Linked DNA regions of Homo sapiens: region 1 is linked to region 2. The links come from fine-mapping of genetic effects on gene expression. A gene starts in region 2. The other region holds a variant in brackets. All regions are shown on one strand. Distances are between the middles of the regions.

What was found.
Region 1: its variant is fine-mapped to the expression of ENTPD4 in whole blood (TOPMed, PIP 0.93).

Annotation. Positions count from the first base shown.
Region 1 is chr8:23,419,997-23,432,330 of GRCh38, reverse strand. It overlaps ENTPD4 (ectonucleoside triphosphate diphosphohydrolase 4), which reads left to right. Exons shown (of 13, transcript NM_004901.5): 13 at 1-3,169. Among named protein-coding and RNA genes, the nearest start is that of LOXL2, 22 kb to the right of the region's middle. RefSeq lists an enhancer at 9,609-10,109. The variant C/A (reference allele first, on the strand shown) is at 6,195.
Region 2 is chr8:23,450,610-23,462,943 of GRCh38, reverse strand. It overlaps ENTPD4 (ectonucleoside triphosphate diphosphohydrolase 4), which reads left to right and starts at 5,297. Exons shown (of 13, transcript NM_004901.5): 1 at 5,297-5,387. It overlaps ENTPD4-DT (ENTPD4 divergent transcript), which reads right to left and starts at 5,173. Exons shown (of 5, transcript NR_186533.1): 1 at 4,955-5,173; 2 at 3,590-3,730. RefSeq lists silencers at 5,084-5,763, 10,014-10,308 and enhancers at 7,629-8,130, 9,480-10,186, 11,602-12,309.

The sequences.
Region 1 (12,334 bases), 31 kb after region 2:
TGCACTTTGATACTGGAGGGAGGTGGAAAGATGCATTCTGTCAGTGGAGAGGGGACTGAATAGTGATGCTTTCATAGAACCAAAAAACTTACTGCCTGAAATGATAATCCTCTTTTTTCTCTATCTTGAAAGCTCTAACCTGAAGAGGGTGATTTTTTTTTTTATTTATTGTTCAGGTCTGTTACTGTATATGTTTTCTTTGCAAATTTAAATTTTTTAAACCATTTATATCCAAAACAGAGAAACATGGGCACCAGGAGATAACCATTTATAAAAGTGATAGTGAACTATCGACTACAGCTTTGTGCGAGTGTGTGAAAAATCCCAAGAAACCAGCGTGAGGGGAGGCAATGCTGGTTCTTTAAAAACACACACTTCAGAATTTACTGGTACATTTTATTTAGAAAAATCCTCGTTACTGTTATCTTTTCCTGACCGCAGGTAATTACGCTCCTTATTCCATATTTCAGTGGCATTAGAACACTGTGGTTTTGAAAGAATTGGAAATTCCTAGTTTCACCAGTTTCGGTTTTATTGGAACTAGAGCACATGCCCACTTCTTGCTCAGTATTCCTCAGTGTTTCTGCTTAATCGTGCCTCAGTTTCTTCCAGCTTCCAATTGGTGTTTCCCCCACCCCCCTTAATTAAAAGTCATCTCAGCTTTTAATCGTACTGGGAGACCCCATGCACAGCCTGCCGAGTCCTCTTCCTAACCGCATTGACTGAGGCTGTTGCTGGCAGCACCACTGTAAATCCAGAAGGGAAGAGTCTGCATCCAATACAGGAAATAAATTCACATTTTGAAGGAAAAAATTCGACAATTTAAGCCAAAATCTAAAAAGGACAATTGGATTGGCATATGTGAGATTGGTGTTTTTTCACCTATTTATTTAGTTGAGAAGTTTGGGGAATTCTCGTACAGTTTTTTTAGGTGGAGTTTGTTTTGTGCGAGTGTCTGTGTGTGCTGTTCCCTAACTCCAGAACAGTTAAATTCCTGTAGTTGGTAGCAGATTAGTACCCAGAAGTGGGGTTGTTGCTATAACAGATAACTGAGGATATTATAAAAGTGGCTTTGGAACTAGGTACTGGGCAGAGGCTGGGAGAGTTTGGAGAAACAGGAGAGAAAAGGCCTGTATTGCCATGAACTGAGCATTAGGGGCAGTTCTGCTGAGGGATCAGAAGAGAAGACCAAGGGAATTCTGTCCCAGTTGTGGCTCAAACTGCCTCAGGTGCAGCTTAACCTGCGTCTCTGGAAGGTAAAATGCATCTGATCCTTGAGGCAAGAGCTGTGGGGGCATGGCTCCCTCACCTGGATTTCAAAGCGTGTTACCAGCAGCCTGGGGACCCAGGCTCTGCCTCTGGATTTACCTGCATCGTATTTGCGCTTCGTGGTCAAAGTTGTTAAGAAAGGGGTGAGCTTCTGGCTACCTAATAAGTTGGTCTTGGCCACCTGCCTGCGACACTTCCTGGAGGAGCCATGGATTATTGGTGGAGGCTGCAGGGAGCTGGCGATGGAGCCACTGGTGTCAGCAGCAGAGAGGGAAGAAAGGAAAGGAAGGGGCCACAAATGGTTGAAGTGGGCAGGTGGGCACCCAGGGAGTTAGGGGACCCCGCCTTCCAGCTCTGGGCATAGAAGAGTTAGTCACATACCTGAGGATCCTGAAACAAGGGCTGAGAAAACCTCATTGCTCCAGCTGAGAGGTAGTAGTGGATTTGCCATTTTTAAACAGTTGCCTAAGAAAAAACGTTGAAGAATATGCAGCAGACACTATATGTGGCCTGTAAAGCCTAGAATATTTACTAAAATATTTACAGAAAAAGTTTGCTGGTCCTTGTGAGAACAATGCAGTTCAAAAAAGGATACAGACAGAAGCATCCTCTTAAATCAGGAATGTAGTTTCCATTTGTGGGCACGAAAAGATGGACAAGAGAAGTAACCAAACTTCAATCTTAAAATATTTGTTGCACCAGAATTTCACTTCGGATTTTTCCGTCTAGATTATTTTCAAGATGAGTTTTGAAACAAACCAAGAAACCTGCCCCTCACCCAAAATTGTTTAAAAAGAGACCACTCAAGGGAGTTCATTATGCCGTATGGAGATGTCTGCAGTCGCAGCAAATCACATTCCAGAGAAGGTCTCGCGTAGGTGAAGACAGCCAGGTGCTTTCTCTAAGAGATACAGGGTGGGTGAGAGACAAGCCAGGGAGGATCTTAATTCAAGAGAAGAATTCATACCAAGAGCTGACCAAGAAGGCAGTAAATTCTGTGTACTTGTAGCAGAAGAAATTGGACTAGGAACTTGCCCAAAGCTTTATCAAAGAAAAGCATTGTGTTCAATCTTGGTAGAAACATGCCAGCAATAAGTGCTTATGTTCCATAGCCATATCATGGGCTTCTCACTTTTAAACCTCCTCCAGGGGATGTTCTCAGACATTTCACAATCCCTCTGGGGACATTACAGTAGAAGAGAAACACATGGAACTGTACCAGTGCTTTTTGCCCATGTTCATCCTAAGCTCCGGCTTTAGGCAGTGCTTTCTGACCTGGGCGGAGTGAAGACGCTGCTGGTGGCTGAGGCCAGTAACATGGGGCCCCTGCCCAGCCACCCTGAAGGCTGGGTAGGTCCCTCTTTTCACCACCAGTTTTCCACATCTGTGTACTCTAGATTAACAAACTCTGGATAAACAGATATTTACATTTTAAACTCAGGCCTACACAGAGTAGTTTTCCTTATAAGGAGCATGTATCACTTAGCAAGAAACTAAAAATGGCAAATGAGTTTTTCATCCTTTAAGAAAAAAATCAGCTTTAGAATTCTCTGCGGTCAGTTGTGTGCAATGCAACAAAACTACCTTTCAGTAAATTACTTAGTTATTTATTTCAGTGTTTTGTTTCTTTTGATACTAAGTTTCCCTTTCAATAATGAATGATGTGACCAACCAAGGAGAATTTGTTTGTTCTGTACTAAAATTATATTTTACAGTTAGGAATTATAAAAAGCAAGGGAGCATCTTTAAATGTTTTTTGTTTAAGCGATGTCTTCCATCCAAAGTAAGAATAATACTCTCGGAAGGTCCTTTTGGTGTCATGTCACTTGCTGTATGTGGCAGCCTTACAGTGCCACACTTGGGTACTGAAAAATCAATAAAACGAAAGTTCATCATCCCATGGCCCGTAGACTGTGTGGGCTTGCTTCCTTGTCATCTTTGAATCTTCTTACTCATTAGAATGATGAGTTGAACTTGAGTCCAAATTCAGTGAAATACATTGTCTGAGTCTGACGCACACTCTTTGCATGTGTTGTGTTGGGTGTGCATACAGTGAAGCACAATTGTGTGGGGTTGTGGAGAGGGCGTCCACACTCTCTGCAGCTCAGAAAGCAGATATTTCACAAGTAGTGACCAACCCACGACGTTAAGCCATTCACCAACAATAATTGCCACTCTGAGATGACTGTTTATAAGGTCACCATTTTAAGTACCTACTTGTATATAGACAAGGAAAAGTAATAAAATTAACCAATTTTTATGTATTTAATAGTAACAGCAAATGCTGACTTTATGTTACACTGTTTTGCAGTTCGATCTAAGCTTAGAACCTTTGGCTTACTTCCAGAAAATTATGACTGTCATTATTAATGTTACGTGTTACCAATATGGAGGATGACATTAGACGCTCAGCATGTTTCTCAGCCGTTGGAGAATACATAGATGTTCTCCTGGAGCAGGAAGGTGGGCCTGAGCCATAACCTGAAAATAGATGATAGAGACAGATGGGAAGGGAAGGGGACCAGCTGTTAGGACCAACAAAAATAAAGGCCTGAGACATGCCGGAGAGGAGAGGGAAGCGCAAAAACAAAATGAGAGAACAGAGCCAGCAAAGTGAGCTCAAGGGAGGTCCTCAAGCCATTGATCGCTAGGAAAACAGGACACAGCATTAAGATAGAACTGTCGTAAATAATTTTTGAGGCAGTGCAATGACTATAGGGCTTTTTGCCTGACTTTAAATACGTTAAAATATCTAAGATGTTAAAAGACATCTAAATTTTTATTCCACTTGGTGGAAGAGAAGTCAGTGCCTATTTCCAACACTAACCATGTTGACAGGTCTGAAAAGCCATGGTTCTGTGTTTTTGTTTTCAGTCTGTTTCCATTTGTCCTATGAATTGGCATGTGCCCTGTGGGTTTTTTTGGTTTTTTTGAGATCCGGAAATGCTAATGGTTTGCACAGAGGGGGTCGTGAGGTGCAGGTCACCTCTGTCAGAGTCACAGTGTCTTCTTTTGGAAACGTCATGAAAAGACAAAGGAGTGCCCGGCTAATCCCAAAGCACGCCTTGGCAGAGTGGATCTGCCTGGAGCATCCATCCGTGGCAGCATGAAAGGCAATCCTGTGAGAGTCTTCCTGGCCCCACCTCGTCTGGGAGCATGTGGGCCTGTGATCCCACCTCCTCCTAACAAAAGAAGAGTGTGTCTGTTGATGTGTTTTATTTTGCTTTTAGCCAGGCTAGTCCCCCTGCCCTTGCGCAGTCCAGCCTCTTTCTATTAATAGATCTATTAAGGTTGACTGAGACCTGCTGCAGGGGACGCTAGGGGCACTTTGGCCTTCGATCTTTGCCTTTCACCCTTGACACTGTTTGGCAGGTGAACGACATCCGGGCTCCAGACTTCATGGCCACTTCAACATTTCTGTCAACAGCCTGTGTCTGTTTCATGTAAGAGGCCCAAACAAGAAAATCAAGGCTTAAGAAGGATTTCTGCCTTGAGTAAAGGACTGAAACCTCCTCACAGAACACGATGGTGACAGGCACAAAAGACAGACTTCTTGTTTAAGTAGGTGAACTCCAAAGACGAGAGAAAAGGAGTTTTTTTCCTCCCGTTCAACCAGTCATCAAATAAACATCTCAGGCATCTGGTGTTTTGTCAAGGGATTGGGATTCCAGTGGCCCCTGTGTGACTGGAAGGGGAAAGGTTTGTCGGTGGCAACGCCATCGAAACACAAAGGAGCAGCTTTAGAATCCCCAGTGTGGGTCTTCTCTTGTGTTATTTCTACAACATCCTTGTGCCAGCTGTTCTTGCTGTTCTCTCAGGCTTCTAATTGGGAGTGTGAATACTACCTTTCACCCTTTTTGCCTTCATGAGAATCAGAGTTTGAAGTGGACAGTTCTGAAAATATTAATCATCTTTTTTTTTTTTTTTTTTTTTTTTTGAGACGGAGTCTCACTCTGTCGCCCAGGCTGGAGTGCAGTGGCGCGATCTCGGCTCACTGCAAGCTCCGCCTCCCGGGTTCACGCCATTCTCCTGCCTCAGCCTCCCTAGTAGCTGGGACTACAGGCGCCTGCCACCACACCCAGCTAATTTTTTGTATTTTTAATAGAGACGGGGTTTCACCGTGTTAGCCAGGATGGTCTCGATCTCCTGACCTCGTGATCCACCTGCCTCGGCCTCCCAAAGTGCTAGGATTACAGGCGTGAGTCACCGCACCGGGCCTAATCACCTTATTCTTGCCTGTCATTACACAAGCCTTAAACTCCAGGGACCAGACTTAGCACTTTCTTTTCCTAAGATTGCTTTTTCTCCCACTTGGCCCAAGCTTTAATACCCAGATTTTAGACTCAAAACACTTAAAACATTTGGTGGGCTCTCCTCAGCCTTGTAAAGTTCTTTGATACTGGTCATGGCAGCACAAGAGAATTTTCTGGAAGTTCCTGGCTGTTTAATGTTCAAATTACACGTTTAAATTCTCTCCCACCTCCCGTGGCCCTGTTTTCCATCAGTGTATCTATTTCTGGCCCAAATGTCCTTGAACATGGACCATGACAGGTCCTGTGTTTACTTTCCATGTTTCTACATTTATAATCCAGTAAAGAAGACACCGAGTAGTACATAGTATTTTGTAAATATTTGTAAACTAATGAAAATCTGGTTTCTTTCACAAATCACCTCTTTAGGTTTCTAAAATTTATGAAAGAAATCTTTTAAAATCTATTCTAGGCCGGGTGCAGTGGCTTACGCCTGTAATCCCAGCACTTTGAGAGGCCAAGGCAGGCGGATCACGAGGTCAGGAGTTTGAGACCAGCCTGGCCAACATAGTGAAACCCTGTCTCTACTAAAAATACAAAAATTAGCTGGGCAAGGTGGCGGGCGCCTGTAGTCCCAGCTACTCAGGAGGCTGAGGCAGGAGAATCACTTGAACC[C/A]AGGAGGCGGAGTTTGCAGTGAGCCAAGATTGTGCTACTGCACTCCAGTCTAGGCGACAGAGCAAGACTCTGTCTAAAATATATATATATTTTATTCTCAATTTTTGCTGTTCTTTCCAGATGTGCAGAGTTGTGTGTGGTTTTAAAACCATATGCAATGTGCCGTGAAGGGCGGGATGGAACCCAGGCCTCTGAGTCTCAGTTCTCTGTTCACTTCCCTCCACCAGAGTTTGTTAAGGGAGTGTTGCATTTTAAAGCTTTATTTAGAAAAACTTAGGAAAACCAAGTTTACCTCAAGTGGTTTCCTTTTTTCGCAACCTGTTCAGCCTTGACAGAAAGGAAAAAGAAATCCCAGAATTAGGTAGTAATAATAGAGGCAAAGTGAGATTGATATTTTCTGAAGCCCTGCTTACAGAAAATAATTCCTGCATATTTATTTTATTCTAAACATAGCTTCAGATTGTTTTTCATTCTAAGTTGTCCTTAAAAGTCACTTTTTAAACCTCACAAGAAGCACCAAATGTAAGGGGGAAAGGATGGATTTGACTACATCTAAAGTAAGACTTTCTGTTCATCAAAGCTAACAGATGGCAGACTAAGAAGGTATTTGCAGTGACTGAAATTGAAAAGGGATTAAAATGTACAAAGTTTCATGCAAAACAACAAGAAAAAGGAAATCCAAAAGAAAAAACCGGCCATGGATATTAATAGGTGATTCACAGCAGGGGAAACCCAAATGGTGAACAAGAGATAAACTAAGCTGAAGAAATGCAAATGTAAATTAAGACCCACTACCTTATGCCCCTCAGAATTGCCAGACTTCAAGTGCTGGCAGTGATGCGGGGCCTGGACTTCAATATTGCTGGTGGTGGTGCAAACTGCAATGCGTACCCCAGAAGGGAAGCTGGCAGCTTAAAAGTTAGCAGCGTGTGTGCCCTTTGATTCAGAGAGCCACTTGCGCGTGGCTCTCCGGAGAGATTTCTACCTGGGTCCATGAATGGACTTACGGAAGGATTCCTTGGTAATGATTCTGAGTGACTGTGTTGATGGAGGCAAGCAAGGTCTTGGACAAGTCAAAGGCGGCAGGTGCGTACCATGGAATACTGTATAGCCATGAGAGACAGACCTAGAACTATGAACAGCAAGCGGGTGGCTCTTAAAAATAGTGTTGAATACTGAAAGCAAGACATGAGAATTGTTGTATAATGCCATTATGTTAATGTAGGGCATACGGCACTGTATGTCCTATGAGGATGTGCATATTTTGATTCAAATACATTAAAATGGACGTTATGGGGACACAGATTATTTATGAAAGGAGGAGAAAAGATAAAACTGATTTCCTTGTTTTAGGGTGACCTCACATCCCAGTGAGCCCCTCAATTCAGGGCCAGGGAGGTTGATTGGTTACCCCACCCCAACCCAACCCAGGCTGTTTTCAGCACGGCAGCCTGATAAGCTGTGATTCAGACCTTGAAGTTGTTAGGCAAAAGCTCTCCACTCGGCTCTGTATTTGACTCAGGAAGAACTGAAGTCTTTATAATGGCCTAGACAGCCCTGCACCGTGGCCTCCCACTCCACACCTCTCTGACCGCAGTCCTCATTTCTCCGAGACTCCGCTCCAGCCACCCTGGCCTCAGGGCCCTCTCAGGACTTTCCATCCCCCTCACCCTGCTTCACTTTCCCCCATGATGCTTATGACCTTAGATCTAGTACACTCTGTTTTCATTACGTTCTATGTACGACTCTCCCTATTACCCTACTAGAACATGAGCCAGGGGGCAGGGGGCTTTTGTCTGTGTGTTTTCATGTTGTATCCCCAGGCACAGGATCTGATAGGCGGTAGACATTCAATAAATATCTGTGGAATGAATGAACAAGGCAGGATCCTTAAAGCGAGGGGGAATGACCAGGCTGAGAACTGAGAGAGCATGCTAAACTCCACAGTCTGGCCCCAGGGATGGGGGCAGGAAAGATGGCACCACCTCCTTGCTTTATTAGAGGGAAAGAAGGTGCTTCTTGTGCAGAACCGTCATCATAACAGAAAGATAGCTTATTACACGCCAGGCACTGTTCTAGCTCTTTGTTAGCTTACATAATCCCTGTATTAGTTCGTTTTCACACTGCTATAAAGAACTTCCCAAGACGGGGTAATTGATAAAGGAAAGAGGTTTAATTGACTCACAGATCAGCATGGCTGGGGAGGCGTCAGGAAACTTACAATCACGGCGGAAGGTGAAGAGGGGGAACCAAGACACCTTGGCAGGTGGCAGGAGAGAGAATTAATGCAGAAGGAACTACCAAACACTTATAAAACCATCAGATCTCCTGAGAACACTATCACGAGAACAGCACAGGGGAAACCACTCTCATGATTCAATTACCCCCACCTGGTCTCCCCCTTGACATGTGGGGATTGTGGGGATTATAATTCAAGATGAGATTTGGGTGGGGACACAAAGCCTAACCATGTCAGTCCCCAAAATGACACCATGAGGAGGTGCTTTGATTACCGTCACTTTACAGGTGGAGAAACAGATGTGGAAAAGGCACACAACTTGCCCAAGGTACCGAACTAGCCAGTGGTGGGGCTGGGATTTGAACGCAGGCAGCCTGGCTCCATTCTGTACTCTAGAGCTGCACTGTCCAGTATGACGGCCACTAGCCACATGAAACAGGCCAATCTAAACTGAGATGAGCTGTAAGTATAAAATATACACCAGATTTCAGGCCGGGCACAGTGGCTCATGCCTGTAATCCCAGCACTTTGGGAGGCCAAGGCGGGCGGATCACGAGGTCAGGAGATTGAGACCATCCTGGCAAATATGGTGAAACCCCGTCTGTACTAAAAATACAAAAATTAGCCAGGCATGGTGGTGGGCGCCTGTAGTCCCAGCTACTCGGGAGGCTGAGGCAGGAGAATCGCTTGAACCCGGGAGGCAGAGGTTGCAGTAAGCTGAGATCTCCCCACTGCACTGCAGCCTGGCAACAGAGTGAGACTCTGTCTCAAAAAAATATATATCTATATCTGTCTGTCTATATATAGATATAGACACACCAGATTTCAAAGACTTCATGTAAAAAAAATATGAAATATCTCAGTTTCTTTACATTGGGTACATGAGACATGACAATATTTTAGGTATATTGAGTTAAATAAAATATTATTGGATTAACATCACCTGTTTCCTTCTACCTTTTTAATGTGTACACTAGACAACTCTAAATTGCCTGTGTGGCTCACAGTATATTTCCGTCAGACGGAGCTGCTCTCGGTACTTGCTTCTCAAAGTGTGGTCCTTGAATCAGCAGCATCAACATCACTGAAGCCTGACGGAAGTGCTGGATCTCAGGCTTGGTCTCAGACCTCTTGAATCAAATTCTTCATTTTGCCAGCCTTCCAGGTCACTCATAATGCATGCTCACATTTGAAAAATGCCGCTTCAGACCAGGCAGCAATTTTTTTCTCTAAAGGGCCAGATAATAAACATTTTAACTTTGCAGGCCACATGACTTCTGTCCAAAACTCACCTCACTGCTTCTGTAGTATGAAATGAGCCAGAATATGCACGTGAATACGGATTCCACTGTAACCTGCACGGACCTAGGGGGACTGAACAAAGCGGGGCAAACACGGGAATAAAAGACAAGAGACAAAAGAGTATATTTTGAAGAAGGGGTCAGGGGGTACCTTGCCCCTAGTGGACAAGGGCCCTGAGCTTTATACAGCCCTCCTTATTTATTAGGCAAAAGAGATAGTGAGAAGCGGGGTGGAAGAAGGGGTCAGCTGCTCAGTCTAGAGCAGGCTTGCAAGACTGCATTCCTCGAACAACAGGCTAAATGTTGCAGTAGATAACCTCAGCGCCAGGGAGTGATTGCCTCCAGCAAACCTTCTGTCGGCAGGAGCAGTCGTCAGTTTTCTCACATCCTGCATTCATGATAAACAGTTTGCTGTTGGATCATATAGCCTCCAGTGGAATGCTGCGTTGGTCACATCCCATGGGCCTTCGGCTCCCTGCATATCCCCCTTTCTGTTTATGAATTAATTGAAAAAATGTAAGGCCAGGCTGGGCAGCTCTCATTCTCCGATTGGCAGTCCATCCGATTTTACAGACTATAAACAGAAGACAGAGACGAAACAACATTATTCCAAGAACTACATATAAGATGTTAATGTGGTGCCTTAGATAGGTCCAAGGGTTGAGGCTCTCCAGGCCTTGCTGGAATTTGGTCCCGTCTTCTAAAGAAGGCTGAAATTCTTGAGTTTGCCTATTTAAATCAAGAATTTTGTTTTGTAATTCACCAATATCAAAGGTGATGTTGGATGTGAACGCTCCCTGCAAATGGGCTTTCACAAGGTCCCACGGATACTCACTTTGGTTGTATTCTAAGTTGGTTACACAAATATGAGTGTGATTAAAATGACAGCGCAATTACTGCTGCAACTGCAAGCTTTGTACTTGTGCCCCTAACCACAGAACCGTGGATTTCAGCATTGCCACTTCAGTTTGTAGCTCAGTGTTAATTTTATTCTGAAGTCGCCACGCTTGGTCAGCTGTGCGCGTCCAGTTCTCCACGTACTGAGCTATTTGAATAGAATTATGCAAAGCTACAGAAGATATCACAACAGAAGTTACTAGCATGACCAAGTAAACAGTAGCAAAAATTATCATGCCTAAGGCTCTACGGGCACGATGAGTCAGCTGAGTTAGAAGTTTCACAAAATGCAAAGCAGGTGTGGCAGCCCAAGGCTCAGACAGATTAACAGGAATCCCTAGCCCAGGGATACCACCTAAAATCATCACAGTAGAGATATTATGTGTTTGCAATGTGCTATGATTAGTGCAGTGATATAACTGGCAAGATTTACAGGTCAATTGGGTATTGTTTACCTGGAGCTGGTCCTTCTTAGCTGCCAAAAAGACATAAGGATTAAAAACACAAACTGTAAATTGAGTGATGATATTCTTTACAAATGTAACCTTAGAACTGTGTTGTGACTCCGGTCGGCCTTCTCTCCGTCTTTGCATTCAGGCTCAGCTGACTCATGGCTCATACCGGGACCGGGTCCATGGTTGGCCACCCTGGGTTCCTCCAGTCTCCCATTCCATGGTCGCACGCACCTTGAGGGCACCCACACAGTTCATCCATCTCCTGCAAAAACACAAGTATACCCTCTTCCCCACATTAGTAAATCCACTGGACCTTTCCATTGGCCTTCTTCCGGGGATTTCCGTAACACTTTCGGATAAACTTTCCTCTTTTCCTCTAACACTTGCCAATGTCTTTCTGCTGGAGTCTTTACCTTCCATACCAGGAGTCAGAAAATTTAAAGTAAGGCTAAATGTAGTTTTGATTGAGGTGGTAGTTGGTCTCCTATACCCCCTTTTTGTTTTTTCAATATGCGTTGTAATGTTTGATGTGCCTGCTCTATAATGCCTTGTCCTCTAGGATTATAAGGAATTCCTGTTTTATGGGTTATAGCCCAAAGCTGTAAGAAATTTTGAAAAGCATGACTAGTATAAGTGGGTCCATTGTCAGTTTTTAATTGTTTAGGTATCCCCATGTGAGCAAATGATGACAGACAATGTGGCCATACATGACCAGCTGTCTCACCTGTTTGGCATGTAGCATGCAGCATATGAGAATAAGTGTCTATAGTCACATGAACGTAGCTAAGCTTACCAAAGGTTGCTATGTGTGCAACATCCATTTGCCAAATTTCATTTGGAGCCAAACTTCGTGGGTTACAGCCTTCTACAGGTATAGTTCCAGGGACATGCTGGCAAGTAGGACAGGCTTGTATTATAGCCCTAGCTTGGCTATGAGATAAATGGAACATGCGAGTAAGGGTGGAAGTATTTTGGTGCAGAAGTGCATGAGATGCTTGAGCTTGCCGAAACACAGAACCAATCAGTTTGTCTGCTTTCTCATTACCTAGAGATAGGGGTCCAGGAAGTTGTGTGTGAGAGCAAATATGAGAAATATGAAAAGGAGCTGCATGAGAACGAATAACTTGTTGAAGTCTTAAAAATAAATTAAGCGGCTGGGCATGGTGGCTCACACCTGTAATCCCAGCACTTTGGGAGGCCGAGGCAGGTGGATCATGAGGTCAGGAGATCGAGACCATCCTGGCTAAC
Region 2 (12,334 bases):
AAAAAAAAAAAAAAAGAAGAAGAAGAAGAAAGAGAAGGACGGAAAAAAAGAGGGAGAAGAAGAGACTGTCTTAGTTCATTTGTGCCACTATAACAAAGTACCACAGACTGGATAATTTATAAAGGACAGAAATATATTTTCTCACAGTTCTGGAGGCTGGGAAGTCCAAAGCACATTTTCTATCTGGTAAAAACCTGTTCCTCAAAGATTGAGCTATATAGGTATCCTCATCTGACAGAAGGTATGGAAAGACAGAAAGGGGTTGAGTGCTAAGTACTTACAGGGCAGAAGAGCAGAAGAGAGTAAACACGTTTCCTCAAGCCCTTTTATAAGGTCTCTAATCCTACCCATGAGGGCTCCACCCTCATGACTTAATTAATGCTGAGAGGCAGAACCCCTTAATGCTAATCACATTGGTCATTACGTTTCAACACATGAAAACTGGGCGGCACATTCAGACCACAGCAGGGAGGGAAAGGAGAAGAGAGAAAGGGAAAATCTTACTTCTAGTCTTCTCTTTTGCCTCTTAGAAATCATAGATTTTAGACCTGGAAAGAACGTTAAAGGTCAGCTTAGCCATCTCCACAAACCCCTTTCCTTTTACAAATTATATATGGATGGTGAGGACCAGTAAGGCAAACTACAATTTCTAAGCTTACACAGTCTATTGAGGATAAGGATTCAGGTTTCCTGCCTCCCGGCTTGGTACTTTTTACATTAAGTCATCCTGTCTCCCATTTAGTTTTATAACCTTGAGCAAGTCACCCAACCAGTCAACAAATATTTTTAAAGACCTAACAACAAGTAATGGAATATCCAACCAAAAGAAATTTAAACAAATAAAGAGCTTATTTTTCTCTCCTAATAAGAAGTCAGGGGGTAGACACAGTCACTGGTACTAGTTCAGCGGTTTAATGATGCCATCATGGACCCAAACAGTTCTATCTTTCAGTTCCATCGTATTTATTGTTGGCTCTTATCAGGATGACTGTTGTCCCATGGTTGCAAAATGGTCATGTATCTCCAGGTATCACATATTTGTTCAATATTTCATTTAACACTTTTAAAGTCCCATGCACAAAATGAGTTACTTTGATTTTACAACCATGATAGCTGTATTCTTTGTAGATGCTCCATCAAGCTGAGGAAAATCATACCCTTTATAGTTGATAAAGGCTTTTTTTCAAAATTATGAATGGGTGTTGAATTTTGCCAAATTTTTTTTTGCATTGACTGAGATCATACGAATCATATGAATTTTCTTCTTTATTCTGTTTATGTAGTGAATGACATTGATTGATTTTCAAATGTTGAGCCAATTTTGCATTCCTCAAAAAAGAATCCCACCTGGTAATGCTATCTTGCTCTTTCAGATGTCGCTGGATTTGATTTGCCAATTTTGTTTTTGTTTTTGTTTTTTTGAGATGGAGTCTCACTCTGTCACCCAGGCTGGGTGCAGTGGCGCAATCTCAGCTCACTGCAACCTCCACCTCCCAGGTTCAAGCAATTCTCCTGTCTTACCCTCCTGAGTAGCTGGGATTAAAGGTGCCCACCACCTTGCCTGGCTAATTTTTGTATTTTTAGTAGAGATGGGGTTTCACCATGTTGGCCAGGCTGGTCTCAAACTCCTGACCTCAGGTGAGCCACCTGCCTCGGCCTCCCAAAGTGCTGGGATTACAGACATGAGTCATTACACCTGACCTTGATTGGCCAATATTTTGTTAAAATTTTTGCACCTATGTAAGAAATATAGGTGTGTGATTTTCTTTCCTTTTTATTTCTTGGTATCAGGATTATTCTGAATTATAAATTAAAAAGTGTTCTCTCTTCCTTTGTTCTTTCAAAAGAGTTTATATAAAATCAATATTACCTTTCTTAAATGATTGATAAACATTTACTAGTGAAGCCATCTTGCTCTGGAATTTTCTTTTTAGGACCTTAAAGATATGGGGTGATTCAAATGTTCTATTTCTTCCTGTGCCAGTTTTGGGAAGTTGTATTTTTCAAAGACTTTTTCCATTTAATGTAAATTATCGAAATGATCAGCATAAAGTTATTCATAATGTTTTCTTATTATATTTTCAATTTCTGTATATCTGTAGGGATCTTCCTCTTTTATGCTTGATATTTGTTATTCGTGTTTTTTTGTCCTGCTCAATCTCACTAGGAGTTTAGCAATTTTGTTAATATTTTCAAAGAACCAACTTGTAAGTTGGTTAATGTCTCATATTATTTTTTATTATTTTTTTCCTCCTATTCACTTCGAGTTTAATTCACTTTCTTATTCTAATGTCATAAGGTGGAAACTTAGATAATTGATTTCAAACCTTTTTTCTTTACTAAAATAAACTTTTAAAGCTATAAATTTCTCTTGAAGGACTGTTCTGACTGCATTCCACATATTTTGATGCAGTTTCATTATCATTCTGTATGCCGTGTTTTCTAACGTTCTTACAACCATGCCTGGCATAAAGTACTTAGTAAGTGTTCCCTCCTGTTAGCTCCAGTTTTTGTTTTTTTTTTTTTGAGATGGAGTCTTGCTCTGTCGCCCAGGCTGGAGTGCAGTGGTGCGATCACAGCTCACTGCAAGCTCCGCCTCCCGGGTTCACGCCATTCTCCTGCCTCAGCCTCCTGAGTAGCTGGGACTACAGGCGCCTGCCACCACGCCCAGCTAATTTTTTGTATTTTTTTTTAGTAGAGACAGGGTTTCACCGTGTTAGCCAGGATGGTCTCGATCTCCTGACCTCGTGATCCACCCGCCTCGGCCTCCCAAAGTGCTGATATTACAGGCTTGAGCCATCGCGCCCAGCCTAGCTCCAGTTTTTGTTTCTCTTGTTAACAAGTGAGAATGGGCCCCTTCAGAGCCTCTTTGCTGTTTCCACTGACTGAAATACTATTCCTTCATATAGGCCCAGAATTCTAATAAATTCCCATTCATTGTGCAGGTGTGACCTCAGACAGCGTTACCTCAAAGAAGCTCTCCCTGATGAACCAGACCAGGATGGTCCTCTCATGTACTAAGTTGAATAGTGACCACCCCCAAAAAATTCATGTCCACCCAGAACCCATGAATGTGACCTTATTTGGAAATAGGATCTTTGCAAATATAATCAAGTTAATATGAGATCATAAGATCACACTGGATGAGGGTGAGCCTTGAATCTAATATGGCTGGTGTCTTTATGAGAAGAAAGAAACTTGGAGACAGAGACACAGACACACAGAGATAATACCATGTGACAACAGGGGCAGAGACCAAAGTGATGCATCTACAAGCTGAGGAAGGCCAAGGATGGCCAGTAGCCACCAGAAGCTAGGAAGAGGCAAAGAAGGATCCTCCTCTAGATCTTTAGAGAGAGCACAGCCCTGCTGACACCTTCATTTCAGGCTTCTACCATCTAGAACTGGAAGACAATAAATTATCTTGCTTTAAGCCACCCAGTTTAGGGCAATTTGTCACTGCAGCTCTAGAATGTAATATGCCAAGTTACACGTTTCCATACTTTCCTATATTTTTCTTTCCTAGCTCTTATCAGACAATTATTACATATAAATTATCAGGAAATATGGATGGTGTGATAATACTTACTAGTCTGGCTTTTCTTCTCTCTCTCTCTGAGATGGAGTCTCACTCTGTTGCTCAGGCTGGAGTCCATTGGCGTGATCTCGGCTCACTGCAACCTCCACCTCCCGGGTTCAAGCAATTCTCCTGTCTCAGCCTCCTGAGTAGCTGGGATTACAGGCACAAAAAAGCCACTATGTCCAGCTAGTGTTTGTATTTTTAATAGAGATGGGGTTTCACCATGTTGGTCAGGCTGGTCTTGAACTCCTAATTTCAGGCAATCCACCTGCCTTGGACTCCCAAAGTGCTGGGATTACAGGCATGAGCCACCATGCCCGGCCTAGTCTGGCATTTTAGTAGAGCCCTCCTTAAGGAAGACTAACATAACCCCAACCAGTGTCTCCAATGGCAAAGATTTTGAAAGGCAGATAATTTCGAAGGAGACTGTCCTTAAAATCACAGTATGTCAGTGGCCAGCTTTAGCTTCTCAATGCTAGCCTTGGGTCACAGGGTTTTCTAGTGTGAAAATTATCCAAACGAGTAATTTCTTATAGCAACAGATTGTCAAAAAAAAGACACTGATGCGCAAGTCATGTGGGAGTCTGAAACATTGGTTCTGCTCTCCTCTGCCTCCAGGGGGTCTTGGCCAAGTCACTCAACCTCTCTGGGTTCCAGGCTCTTAACTGTAAAAGAAGGTGATTGGGGCTACACAGTAGAGTCCCTTTGGCTCTAACCTTCTGAGGCTTCATGGTTTCTTCCGTTAACAGTAGCTGAATCCAGGAAGAGGAGGTGACCCAGGCGGGTGCTGGACCAAGAAGGATTCTGTGTTAAGATGTAGAACTGCCAGTTCTGTCTATGCTTGTTTTACTTGATAAATGGAATGGAGTAGACGTTTCTAGGGCTCTTGTTTTTAAAAATCTTTTAAAGTGGCTGGATTGCTGGTCACTTCCTATCTCTGGGCCACAGTGCATTCACCTGTATACAAGGTGGAAGAAAGGATGGAACCCGGGATTCCCAAGGTCTCTTCCGGCTCTCAAGTGCAAAGTTCTGTGTCTTCAAAGCAGTTTATTGCTAAGCCAGAGAGCTAAGAGAGCTTAGCCTTGTACTAAGTGTAGGTCATGGGGTCAATCTCAGGAACACCCTTCGCTTTATTTCTTCTCATAACCATTGCGTGTGTTGGGGAGGGCTGGGGCAGTCTGCCTCCCCCAACATAGGCACTAACATATGCCATCGACGGGCAAGAATGAAATCCTGGCTCTACCTCTCACGAATCAGGTGGATCTCAAGAGAGACTGAATAAGTGTGAGCCTCCGTTTCCCCATCTGTGAAACAGGGAGAGTTACCGGCAAAGGTGTAAATGTCAAGAGTTGAGCAACAATGCCTAGTCCTTACCAGGTTTTCAAGCGCTATTTTCCATAACCGTTAGGAGCGCTAAGGAAAGATAAACTGCGGTGTCCTAAGTACGCTGAGGCTCGCTGACGACCAGACGAGCACCACGCCACAGTACTGGGTGCCTCCGTGCTCCCACGTCCACATTTCCCGTGCACAGCACACTGGCGTGGCCGCGCGGGTCCACGGAACAGCCCAGCGCTCGGACGCCAATCATCCCGCATCAGGCTCCGCCCCCCAGCGCTCAACGCGCCCCTCGGCGTGCGCGCTCCCGCCGCCAGCGGGCGCGCTCCGGGCGCAGGCGGTGACGTGTTGCCGGCGGGGGCCGGGCGGGGGTGCGGCTCCAGGAAAGGAGCGCGGCCTCCAGGAAGCCGGCTGGCCGTGATGCTGCCCACTGGTGGTCCCCCGCTCCCGGGGTCCCCGGCCGGCCAAGCAGGTGAGGTTGCCTTCCGAGCGTGGGTGAGGGGAGGGCGGGCGGCCGAAGGGGCCGGCGAGTGGGTTGGAGTGCGGGGGCCGGCGGCGCGGCGAGCGGGCCGCGGACGAGCCTCTCTGCCCCAGGCCCCCACAGCCGCCTGCTTAGCCCCGCGGACCGGTTCCCGCCTCCCCTGCCGCGCGGCCACATCCGAGCGCCCCGGGACCAACCCCTGTGAGCCCTGGCGGCCGGCGCGCTCCCCCAGCCCCTGGCAGGGGACACCTGGCGGTCGCGCGCCTCGGGTGACCGCTCGGGATCCCCCCCTCGAATGGGCGGAGCTTGACCGGGCAGCAGGGATGCTGCACCCGGGACCCAGCCGGCCCTGCCTGCCGCTTTAAATGATGACATTCGCTCGTCTTGTCGTTTTCGCTTTGCTTTGCTTTTGCCAGATTTCATGTTAGATTTCTTCTTGGAAAAATGGAGCTTATTGGGCAGTAAAGTGATGATGCACAGCATTGTTTCTGAACTTGAGTAATGCGCGGACCCCTTTTAAAGGAACAATTCTCTCATGGTCTAGAATGTGTCCCAGAACCCTTAGGGTGCTTCAGACCCCAGTTAGATGAACCCTAGTGCAGAGCGTTTTCAGAGAACACTTATCACGAAGGAAACTAAAGAGATCCTTTATGATTCAGGAACTTTCAGGCTAGAAGGTAAACTAGAGGTAATGGAAGAATTCTAAATTAGACACTCAAAGCCCAGGCTAATTTCGCATTGCAGTCTTTGTTGTCTCCTTTTTGTGATGAAAATACCAAATTATCCAGCTTTAGAGAGGCCTAAAAGAGTTATATTATTTGTGTTACCATATATTTGATGTTTTTGTATCAGGTTTGTTAATTCTGTTTGACATAGTAGAATTATAAAATGGAACACTAATTCGTGTAGTTGAATCGTTTATTTCTCTGTTTACCTTAACAGAGGTCTTGTAGTTGTTGCATGTTGAATCTATGGCTTATATTCTTCTACCTCTAATAGGAAATGTGTGACTGAGGCCCTTGAGGATATAGTCTAGGAAGGAGACAAAAATGAACATTTATCTAAGGATTTATATTCTCTACGTATTTACTCAGCATGTTTATTTAAAATAGACTACTCATGAATAAAGAGACGATTCCAATTGTAAGAAAACATCAGGATGTGTAACAGGTTAAATCTTGACAAAGAAACATGTTGACTTGTGCCTTGAAAGAAGTGTAGTCTTGAGAGGAGGACACGGTGGTGGCTCGGAGGAAGTGCTGTTAGTAAATGCCTGAGGCAGGCATGGAGACAGCTTGTGTGGGAGAGAAGAGAGAGACCTGCTGCACTGGAGCTGAGAGATGGTATCTGGGACTGATGAGAGGATAGGTTGGTGAGATAAGGTGGACCAGTTGATGGATAAAAGGTTTCAGGTGCCACACAGGAAACTTGGTGTTGATCCATGGCCTTCCAGAAGGTTCTTAGCTGATCATATTTTGAAGGCCGTGTTTTACAAAGAGTTGCTTGTAAAGTGTGGCGTGCACAGTGAAGGCAGAAGGTGGGTGAGTCGCCAAGAGATCTGTCTTGAGGTAGTGGTGCCTGCTGTGGTCATCTTAGATATGAGGGATATCTGAGGAAGAATCGACTGGCTTGGAGAATGATAGAAGATTGTCAACACCGGATGTGGGAATCAAAGCTGAGAACCAGGTAATCCAGGTCAATGGGGATTGGTGGTACCCGTCTTAGACCTGGAGAATTTGGAGGGTGGTATTAGAGTTTGCATTAGAAGATTTCAACCCTAGAGTTGGACTAGTTGAGCTTGCAGTAACAGGGCTTCAATGAGCTTGGAACGTGGAACTGGAACTTGAGGAAAGTCAGAGTTAATTCAGGAAAAGTGACCAGAAAAAGACTACTTAAAATGGGAACCAGAATTTTGCAAATTAATAGAGGGAGGAAGAGGTTAAGATTTTATATTGAAAAATAAAATTAAAATGTGTAAGATAAATATTGAACATACAGATCATAAATGCAACTACATACATATCTTCTTAAAGAATGAATCAAGTTGTCTTCATGTATCTTTTGTCACTACTGAGTAACGGTGCCACCCGGCAGCCTCCACATCAGCCTCTCACTCTCAGAAAGACAGTTGTTTCTTGCAAAACGCTGCCGGAATGGTTGAGAGCATCTTTAATTTTTCCAGGTTCTCTTGAATCCTTTGATATTCAAATCATTCTTTTCTGAAGTACCCTTCCCTGTGGTACCTTTGCTTATTCAGAAGCTGAGCTCTCCCAGAGGCTGACTTCTCTGTGATTTTGTTTGCCTGTGATTTGAGTTCACTAACATCTGTTTCCTTGCATCTTGTGTTTTTCCACCAGAGGAACCATTTCCCTTTGTGGTTGATTTGCATTGTTTTCGTCGTTATCTGTAGAACTGTCAGTGAGAGACTGACAAAGACATTGACACCTGACTGTAGGCTTTATTCCAATAATGTTCAGCCAAGTAGGGCCCCACTAGCTGAAATCATGAGAATTAATGCATCTCTCTGGTGATAGGTCTAACACAATTTAGGCTTTTTTAAAACATGTCAGTTTTATGTGGTATTACTGAATTTGCCTCCCAGTGCCCTGGTGCGAAGATTCTTAGCTAGAAGGACAATTGGAGTTTACATTTGAAGATCAAATTACCATTTAACTCTTAGGCAATAATCCATTGTACTTTTGTCCTGAGTTAAAATTACAGTGCTTCAGCAGTTATAAGCTGTCCTATTTTCTCTGCTTTTAAACACAAGCTTTGTAACTTAAAATATCTGTTTGTCCTTTTGATCAAAATCATCACATATCTCAAAAAAAAAAAATTCCTGAGACAAACCTCAGATGACACAAAGTTTCCTAAGTGCGCTGTGATCATTCTCTCGGTCACCTTCCTCTTCGAAGTGTGTTCTTTCTCACCCCATCTAGAATTGACCTCCCACCTCTAGGAATCTTTTCCTGCTAAAGCTAGCCTTCTCTGTGCTCTTCTCTGAGCTCTTATAACAAGAATCCCAGTAATTTAACATTGCCTTTAATTAGTATCTTGACTATTTTCTGGGCATTAGTATTTTCTCTGTAGCAATCTGCAAACTCCATGAAATTTGGAGTTGGGTTTGTTACTCCTCATGTCACCTTCGTAGTCCTGACTTTCTTCCTCAAGGACCAGTTTGCCTTTAACCATGACTTTAAGCTGTTAAATAAAACTGTCTTTTCTTTGGTTCTCAGTTCAGCTATCACACAACTATCACTGATGTTTTTTTTAAATGTTCAGATTGGAATTCCTGTGTCCTGATAGGCTTTTAAGATAGGCTTTCTCAATATATTCGGAAAAGTATTTGATCCTGGAAACAAGGTTTCATCCGTCAAAGGTAGCTTGTTAAAAATTGTTATTTCCTCTGATGATAAAATTAATATATGTCCTTTGAAAAATATAGGCAAGCCTAGGGAAGAAAATAAAGATGATACCTGATCTCATTGCCCAGAAATAACTAAGCACTGTTAATATTTTGGTTTCTTTCCTAACATTTTATCCCCCCATGCATGGGGACATTTTTTCACTTAATATATCATGAACTTGTTTTCATGTCAATAAATAGATCTATGTCATCACCTTTAATAGTCACATTGTATTCCATTGCATAAATGTACCCCACAGTGGACATTAGTAACAGTGTTTTGCTGTTCCACACAATACTATGATGACCATCCTATAGATTTTTTAGTGAATTTTCCTGATGACTTCCTAAAGATGAATTTCTGGAAGTGTGATGGGTAGAGCAGAGGATAGGCATGCATAAGTGTTCGTGTGTGTCACCCCAGTACCCCCAGAAGGTTAGTGATGTGCCTGTCCAGAGTCTCACAGCAGTACTCATCGACCTTTTCCCCTTCCCCTGTTAGCCAAGTATCACCAGGCCTTCATGTCTGTCAATATGATAGCTGTTTTTATTTCTATTTATCTGAATACTGATTATTTTATCAGCCATTTCAATGAGATTTATTTCAATAATCTCAAATTGTCTTTGCTCATTTTTCTGTTCAGTCTTTCTCTTATTTCTTTATAATAACTGGCTATGTAAAGGTTATTTACTCTTTGTCATGCACTTTACAAGTACTTTTCCCAAGTTGTGTGTATTCATAGCAGGGAGGGATTTTTTTGTTTGTTTTAAGCACACAGAAGTTTTAAACTTGTGTAGCTATTTTATAAAAACATTAAAATCCATTTAAACGTCTAGATCATTGATTTTTTTTTCTTTTTACTTTTTGTGTAAACTTTTAAATCACAGACATTGTTTGTCCTAAATTTGGGGTACATGGTACAATATGGACACCATATTAAAACTTGAACTAATTAAAGTGATTTTTTCCCCTTTGTCAGGTAGGCATTATTAATACTTTTTACTCTCTAATATCTTTGTGTGTATGTTTTATTTCCTCCACTGCCTTATAGATTCTTTAAGGTCTGGGCCTATATCTAATTCATCTTTGTGTCTCCCATTTCCAGCCATTTGTGAAACCTGCAATAGTTACTCATGATTTGTGTGGCAGGCACTGGTCACGGGGGAAACAGAAGAATAAGAGGCTGTCCCTGCCCTAGTGGGGCTTGTCATGTAATGAGGAAGCCAACCACACGTATAATACTTTAGCCCACTGCTGTGATAAGCAAATACTCTGGGGATATGAGGATTAGGGAAACTCACCGAGGACTCATGCTTGATTTGTGTCAGCATTGATTCTTAGGAATGCAACTGACAACACAAGGAAGAGGTTCATTCTGCTAATGCCAAGGAATGCGAGGCATTTCAGTGATCTGTAGCTTGTGTTTCATGTGGCTGGAGCCTAGGGTACGTAGGAGGGGTCTGTCAGGGAATGAGACAGAAAGATAGGCCCCAGATCAGTACTGTGCAAAGAGCTTTCTGCGATGATGTCAGTGTTTTATGTGTGGACTGGCTAATGCAGAAGCTATATGTGGCTATTAAGCACTTCAAAGGTGGCTAGTACAACTGAGGAACTCAATTTTTAATTTTATTTAAATTTAATTACTTTAAATAACCACACATGGCAAGTGGCTGCCTCATTGGACAGCACCGGACTAAATCATGAGGGACCTCTTTTACACCCTAAGGAGTTGACTGTTTCCTGAGTGAGAGAGAAAAGTTGGGGGATGGGGAGTTATGATTCCCTGTTTGTTTTGGAAATGTCACTCTAGTGTAGAGTTCTTAACCCTTTTGGGTCCCAGAACTCTAAAACTTGACTTCTTGCCAGTCCCTTTCCTAGGGTCTGCAAAGCTACAACTGCAGCACTCAACTGAGCAGACCAAAACCTGGGCCTGGGGGAGCTCCCATTCTGGGGGAAGAGACAAAAAAGAGAAACACAAGACACGCATTATGTTAGAGGACAAGGATGGGTGGATTCTCACACTTGCATCCCACCTCTCCCTCCCAGGAGCTGTGTGACCTTAGACAAGTTACTTAGCCTCTCTGCCTCATCCATAAAGTGTTGTGATAATAGTATCTGTCTTGTAAGTTGTTAGGGGAATGAAGTTAGTATTTGTACAATGTTTGGAACAAGGCCTGGTACATAATGAGCACTATAAAAGCATTTAATAAATAAATAAATGCTAAGGAGAAAAGATCAATCAGGGAAGGGAATTGCTGGGGAGGGGGTAGGCATTGCAGTTATTGATCAGGTGACCAGGGAAGTCCTCCTTGAGAAGGTGACATTATTTGAGTAAAGACCTGAAGGGAATGAAAAAGTGAGCCATACAGATTACTTCCTAGTAGAGGGGGCAACAAGTTGAGAGACCCTGAGACCAGAGAGTGCCTGGCATTTTTGAAGACCACTCGGAACATTGGTGTGGCTGGAATGCAGTGTAAAGGAGGAGAGAGCAGACGATGAGGTCAGAGCCTTAACAGGTGTTAGATCCTGTAGGGCTTTGTAGATTGGAGTCTTTGGAGGATTTCTGAGTACAGAAGTAATCTGATCGGGGTCCTGAGCAAGGGGTGGGAGTGTGGAGCTATCAATTTCCAAGAAAGTATCATTGCCCGAGGGTGATAAAGGCGAGGTCACTGGTTGAGACTGCCGGTAGAAGACTAGTTAGGCTGCTCTTTAGAGCAGGCAAGAGATAAGAGCCTGATCTCAGGCAAAGATGATAAGGAAAGGGATTTTAGATAAGCTGAGGTTAAAGAAATTAAAGGAATCTGTAAGAAATTACATTTGGGGCCAGGCACAGTGGCTCACGCCTGTAATCCCAGCACTTTGGGAGGCTGAGGCCGGCAGATCACCGGGTCAGGGGCTCGAGACCAGCCTGGCCAACGTGGCGAAACCCCGTCTCTACTAAAAGTACAAAAATTCACTGGGAGTGGTGACGGGCGCCTGTAGTCCCAGCTACTCGGGAGGCTGAGGCAGGAGAATCGCTTTAACCTGGGAGGAGGTTGCAGTGAGCTGAGATTGTGCCATTGCACTCCACCAGCCTGGGCGACAAGAGCAAGACTCTGTCTCAAAAAAAAAAAAAAAAGAAAAGAAAAAAAGAAATTACATTTGGAAGATGAAGGAAGAGGGATCACACGTGAATCTGGTTTCCGATTTGTGTAGCTTGGTGGGATCAAGATTGGGACTGCGGGGGCAGAGCAGATTAGGAGAAAAAGGGGAGAAGATTGCAGTTGTTAGGGGTGCAGTTTTAGAATTTTCTCATGGTTCTGTGCAACATTCAGATAGAGATGGCTCATAGGCTGTTGAAAAAGTGTAGAAGAGAAGCCTGGGGTGGAGAAAGAAAAATTTGAGTTACCTGATCATTGAAGCCTCAGTAATGATTGTAGTTAGAAGAGAATGAGGCTAGACAGAGAGCCTGGAAACATAAGAGTAGTCGGGGTTGGCAGAGAACAACGCTTAAAGGATCCTGAGCAGCAGTTATTCCAGAGCTCAGAAGCA